Linked DNA regions of Homo sapiens. The protein of the gene in region 1 purifies or fractionates together with the protein of each later gene. This does not show direct contact. Each region holds a gene or a part of one and is shown on either strand. Other genes may lie near its edges. The genes, in order: UBR3 and CYB5D2.

The links.
Region 2: the proteins of UBR3 (region 1) and CYB5D2 purify together in Homo sapiens (co-immunoprecipitation; one large-scale study listed by IntAct). This does not show direct contact.

The regions. Positions count from the first base shown.
Region 1 is NC_000002.12:170,075,357-170,079,180, forward strand, and holds part of UBR3 (E3 ubiquitin-protein ligase UBR3), read left to right. Parts: intron 1-2,111; exon of another isoform or gene 2,112-2,247; intron 2,248-2,545; exon of another isoform or gene 2,546-3,031; intron 3,032-3,824. UniProt on the Homo sapiens protein: E3 ubiquitin-protein ligase which is a component of the N-end rule pathway. Does not bind to proteins bearing specific N-terminal residues that are destabilizing according to the N-end rule, leading to their ubiquitination and subsequent degradation.
Region 2 is NC_000017.11:4,155,646-4,158,470, forward strand, and holds the end of CYB5D2 (neuferricin isoform 1 precursor), read left to right. Parts: intron 1-301; exon of another isoform or gene 302-548; intron 549-1,220; coding exon 1,221-1,437; 3' UTR 1,438-2,052; downstream 2,053-2,825. UniProt on the Homo sapiens protein: Heme-binding protein which promotes neuronal but not astrocyte differentiation.

The DNA.
Region 1 (3,824 bases):
GGGGTATAATTGTAGAACCAAGGCAGGGAAAAAAGTGATGAGCACACCCAGAGTTTGTCTTCATATGAGCCATAGGTTAAAATCAAGCCTACATTTTAGATGAATGATTATTGTATGTATGCTGATGGAAAATAAGAATTTTTCATTTTAAAATATTTAATCTTTTCATATAATTAGGTGATAATTATTGTAGAGGCAGTGTAGTAGACATTTGATTAATTTATTAATTTATGCTAATGCAGAATTTTTGCCAGTTATGTAAGTACACCACCATTTGACCTGTATTCCCCCTTGTGTCCCTGCTCCACTCTTGTGTTCCTAACCCTGATCCTGACCCTAGGTCAACCAGATTCTCTTTCTCAGGAATGTTAAATCTGTATAGCGAGACTTAGCAGGGTAAATGGTGACAGGAGCTGTATAGTCCAACAGTACTACCCTTGAAAAACTGTCTGTGAATTACTACTTCTGAATTTTTTTATCAGTTAAGATTCTTTGTTTGGGAACAACAAAATCCAGTTCTGATTTAAAATAAGGAAAACCAAAGCAAACTATGACAGAAAAAAAAAAAAAAACAGGATTCATTGGAAGCATACTTGGTAACCTGCAGAATTGAAGAGCTTAACTGTCATCGCTTGGGAAGAAGAGAAACCACAAATATCTCTGCTCTGTTTTCTCTGAAGTGCTGCCACCAGATAACTAAGCCTCAACCATTTTCCTTCCTTTAATTTGCATGCTCAAGGTTCAGATTCCTGGGAGAGAGAATCTGGTTGGCCTAACTGTTGTAATACATATACCCCAGTGGTGGGGCAGGATCTTGTGTTGGGGACAGCCCCATCAGAACTGTACGGAGCAAGAAAAGGGGTTATTTTCTAAAAGAACTTATAATGTTATTAATATAAGAAAGCAGCAAAGGATGCTAGGAGGATTTAAAAAACAAACTAGTGGCCCACTACTTTCACATCTTACCTGCCTGGCTCATACACACCCTTCTTCTCATTCACAGTTTCACTTCTGCTGTTGAAAATGATGTAACCATTTTACTTATGACTGCAAATGCATCTGTGACTTTCCCAAATAAGCAACCTGATGTCACATATAGTCCTTACATCATCAGGCCTCTCTGCATCCAGTAGCTCTGAGAGATGTCCATTGTTCCTGTCATTTGTACTCACACCCAGATGGCCTGGAAAATTTTAATTAGTACCTGCTCACCCTGAATTCAATAGTAAGAGAATGAAAATGTTGCAAAGATATATGATACAGTAAGCAAGATTTGCAAGTAGTCATAAAGCTGCAGCTAATATACAGTCAAATATATATGACTTTCTTCTTTTACCATCCGTGATCCAGCACACCTCAACGGATGATTGGATTTGTTTGAGCAAGGATGTGATACCAAACTTTATTCTGAAAGGGCTGAGCTTCTGGTGATTGGTCCTGTCTTTGTTTCTATAAGGCTGTAATCATTCTGTGTTAAATTTCTGCCTTTCAAGCTTGGTCTATGGTAGGGGTGGTGGTAGGGGTTTTTAAGTTCCAAAATATTGCTCTACCAATTGTATGGCAATATTTTTATTCTTCTTGATAGTCATGGTCAATCCCTCCAGGCAATGCGATAAGCCACCCTTGTGATGTTATAAACCGTACTAGAGGTTAGACAGTACATAGCTTGTAAATCCGCAGAAGAGTCCGGAATAGCAGTGAAGCAGAAATTTAAGACCGAATTTTTTTTTCCATTTTAATGTTTACAATTTAATAAATCTCTTGATTGCAGACATGTAAGGCTGTTTGGTAGTATTCAGAAACATCACAGTAATGGCAGTTTTTTCAGTTGGTGTGTAGTCTTCAATAAATATCTATGAAAGTGCTGTCAGACCAGTAAGACTGCATTTATACATCCATCATTTTCAGGATTGTTGGTAACCACAGCCTATTTTCCCCAAATAACCTTGCCTCCTTGTGTCACAAGGCCCAACTCACATTCACCTCAGTAACAGTACCTTTGGTAATAACATCCAAAGTTATATACATTGGGAATGAGGGACTCTTCTTTACACCAAGTATTGTTAGGCAAAAGGTGGCTTTCAGTTCAGGATGTGTTACATGGGCTTTCTTGAAACGCAAGCCCATTGGCCTGATGAATCTTCCATAGATAAGTAGTTTTCTTGTAAAGCCATCTCCAACAAAGCAGACTTTAGTAACCATCCTCCTCTATGCCTGCGTCTTTCTCTTTCCTGTTGGAATAACTTTGAGACAGAGTCTCACTCTGTTGCCCAGGCTTGAGTGCAGTAGAGCGATCTTGGCTTACTGCAACCTCAGCCTCCTGGGTTCAAGTGATTTTCCTGCCTCAGCCTCCTGAGTAGCTGGGATTACAGGCGCCTGCCACTATGCCCAGCTAATTTTTGTATTTTTAGTAAAGACAGGGTTTCACCATGTTGCCCAGGCTGGTCTTGAACTCCTGACCTCAAATGATCTGCCTACCTTGGCCTCCCAAAGTTCTGGGATTACAGGCATGAGCCACTGCACCTGGCTCTGTTCAAATAACTCTTAACACTTCTGTATCTCCCTGGGCAAGTTACATTTAGACAGAGGGACTTTCCATTTTCCTGCTTTCTCTTTTCATTTCGGCTTAATCATACTGGGAAGTACGTTAGCTTGAGGTTGTCCCTCTCTGTCCAGCAGATAGGCAGGTACTGCTCCCTGTGGAGTCTTTCTTTTGTCTGGTGTTTCTCTTTTCATGCATCTTGATGGTCTTTTTCATTTGTATTTTCTCAGCATGGTGCTGTTTAAGATAAAGCTTAGCCTTCAGACCAATCATTTTCTTTGACTTCTTTGAATGTTCATAAGCCTCTCAACTTTCCTTCTTTCCCTTTTTCTCATGGTAATCCAAATGATATCCATGGCATTTACAGTGTAATTCAATATATTTGATCTGTGGCATGGCACAGGCGCAGCCCCTGGGGTGCGAAAATGCTCTCAATTTTTGGGTCTCAGAGACCCACGAGTGAACTCCACACAGGCCGCAACAGGAAAGGCAAGACCGAATTTTAGGTGTAATCATGAGAGGTGTTACAGCTGTTAAATACTTTCCACCTCTTGTTTCCCATACATATGCATTCCAATTGTGAAAAAGGTCACCCATATATACTGGTTGCTGTTTAGAGCATACACATTCTGTAGGTGATTTCTTCCAGCTGGTGCCATCTAAAAGTTTGTAAATTTCATGAATTTCATAATTTTTGTGGCACTGAAAAAATCAGTTTTGTAGTTCATGATTTAAAATACCACAGCTTTTTTCAGATGATTGAATATATGTTAAGATCAGTGAATTCCATGGACATCCACCTGTTGCCTTACATCTCTCTTCATGAGGGAAATTATTGGAGGTAATGTGCTATGGGCTACTGGATAACATGCAGCCTAACCTATAATAAGTGTCAAGTTCAGTGAGGACAAATTGTTATCCCTTCCCTTTAATGGAAGGGTTCCACTGTAATCAACTCATTACAGAATGCCATCCTTGGAGTCCAGGGTTGGGTGCTGAGTATTGGCAAATGATGTATTGTATACTGTTCTTATCATTGCTTCCATGGACACTTAATCCATGAACTTGTTGATGAGGAACAAGCTAGCTTAGTTACTCCACTGATTTAGGTGGATTATGGCTGCATGTAGGTAATGTGAGATGATCTCCATTTAAATTGACTATTACTTACAGTTTCTTAAGATAATAGACTCACTCTACATTTTATCTTTTTTAAGTGTGAATGGAGTAGCATCTAGAAAAATTTAGTGCTGCTGCCAGTATTTTTATACAGCTGCAAATA
Region 2 (2,825 bases), on another chromosome or scaffold:
CGTGGGCCTTCCTGTGACACAGGCCTGAATGCAGGTAGCCTCAGAGAGCACTGGTCTCTGAGACTCCAGGAGGAGGAGACTCCAGGAGGCCTGCGTGCGTTCAGATGCTTGACTTTGCTTCCTTGGGCCCTGCCTCCTTTTCCCTCCCCACAGCCTTCCCCTGTGTCTCCTGAACCTCTTCTTGCTTTCATGACTGAGTAGTTCAGGCTCTGCCTTCCCCACAAAACCCTTCCAGGGCCACCCTAGTGAACTGCGGGGCCCTATCCCTGTGCCTCAGCTCAGTTTGTTGTCTTCTGTTCACCTGTGTGTGTCCCATTAGACTGAGAGGAACAAGTGCCGAAGGCAGGGACAAGGTGTGGAGTACAGATCCCCAATGATGGGATGGAGGCTGGGTAGAAGAGGGAGGCGTTTGGGTGACAGCCTTGTTCTTGGTAAGCTAGAAGTAGGATGTTTTCTCGCTGGGGGCAGTTTCTCTGACAGCAGGCACCGGAAGCTGTCTGAGGCGTCAGTTCCAAGAACCTCAGTTTCTTTCTTGCAAGGCCTCTGAGTCCATCAGAGACTGAGCCCAGTGCCCTGAGGTGGGCAAGGCCCCTGCCCAAGATAGGAGGGTGCTCAGGTTGTTGGGCCACAGCTGAATCCTCCGTGTCTGAAGCCTAGTGCCATCAAGGACTGGACCTGTGGGGCACAGGACAGCTTGCAGCTACACTCTATGCCAAGGGCTTCCCAGAGAAGGCCGACCCAGGTGGCCAAGGGCCAGGGCCCAATTGCCCACCCCCAGCCAAGTGCCCCAGAGAAGAAGGTGAAGACCCTGACCTGCGCTGGGTTGTAGTGGGGAAGGAAGAGGACAGTCGCACCCAGACACTGCTTCTGAGAAGCTCACAGGCCAGCAGGGGAAGCCCTTTCACAGCTGTTGCCACCAGTGCAGGAACGTGGTGCTGCCTCCTAAGAAGGGGCAGGGCAGGGGCTGGGGAGCACAGTGAAAGGAACCATGGACTGTGCCCTTGGCCTGGGGAAGGTGGTGGTGGCCCTGCAGGGGAAGCTGGAGGATGTTAGGAGAGAGCATGAAGGCTCAGGGGCTGAGCGCTGTAGCCTGCTGCCTTGGGAAACACTCTGGTAGGCTTCTACTTTTCAGAAGGCCTGGCTCTCTGCTTCCTGCTCTCCCCTTCCCAGAGACTCATGAGTTCTCACATTTAAGAAGTCCTCTTTCCGTCTATCCTTAGTGGAGGTGTGAGCAGAGACTGGATTGGCGTCCCCAGGAAGCTGTATAAGCCAGGTGCTAAGGAGCCCCGCTGCGTGTGTGTGAGAACCACCGGCCCCCCTAGTGGCCAGATGCCGGACAACCCTCCACACAGAAATCGTGGGGACCTGGACCACCCAAACTTGGCAGAGTACACAGGCTGCCCACCGCTAGCCATCACATGCTCCTTTCCACTCTAAGCCGTAGCCTCTTCTGTTAATAACACACAGAGAGCTCTGCCAAGCACCTGAGTAGGCCCTTGACACTTGTGTGCCCTGGGATGCCTCCTGGCGCGAATCAGGAGGGTCTGGAAGGACTCTGGCTATATTCTGCAAATGTGGCTCATGCCCCTTACCGTGGCTCGGCGTTGTGGTGCCTGAGGGACAGCCGGCCACCTGCCCAGTACTGGTCAGCTTTTCAACACTATTCCCTTTGACCTACTGGCCATCTTCCTCACAGCCCTCAGATATCAACGGGCACAAATAAGACCAACTCAATTTCCACTTGAATTTACAACCAAAAGCCTGCTGAGTTGATTACAGCTGGGCCAATACAGTACGAGGCAATAACAAATTAGTGTGGGTTGATTCTGGAATTGGAAAAGCTTTTGCTTGTATGGATACAGCAAATCCAGATGTCTCTGAACAAAGCAACAATTTAAAGCAACGACATTTTCTGTCCTTTAAGCACTTAAAATCAGGTGTGGTGTGTTTTCAAAGGCAGAAGTCTGCATTTTGAGCAAAAGGTGGCTTCCCAGCTCTAACAAGGTAACTGGTTAGCATGACATTAAAGCTTGGGCAAGGCTTCAAACTTAAGGTGGCTGGGCTTGCTGCTTGTCCAGTGGTTTGTATGTCCAGCGTCATCTGGCAATGTCATACCTGTTACCTCTTGACTACTTGTGAAGGTAGATGGGGGCAAGGAGTGTTCCTACTTCAGACAGAGAAGTGGGACCAGCACTACCACAGACAGCGCCACGGCCTCTGTGCATCGCCTCATCAGAGCTTCCACCCAGCTCCCTTTGCCGCTCAGTCTCACCCTCAACATCCACCAGCTTCCTCCCTCTCTGTCACTGTCTCCTTTTTCTCCATCATTCATTTCACTAAATCGCTTTCCAGATTCACAGACTAGAAAATGGAGGCTGCCTCCCCTTCACTGGCAGACCCGTACTCACTGCCCCTGTCCCCTTCACTGGCAGACCCGTGCTCACTGCCCCTGTCCCCTCACTGGCAGACCCGTGCTCACTGCCCCTGTCCCCTCACTGGCAGACCCGGGCTTATTGCCCCTATGGCCACAGCTGTTCCTTACACTTGGGCTCTGGCTCATGGCTCCTTTTGCCTGCCCCCGCCATCCTCCTCACCTGCCCCTCTTGTACCTTTAACCTCTCCCCGTCTCCTGGATCTTCCCCCAGGTATGCATCAAACAGCTCACTTCTCTCACATCATAAACATTCCCTCAACTCCAGTTTTGGCTTATACTCACTAGCTTTGCTTTTCAGCTCCATTTGCTCTAAAAATCAGGAGAAATTCTGCATTGGCACATTCCGTGGTCACATCCAGTTCTTACCTAGGCTTTGTCACTCTGGATACTG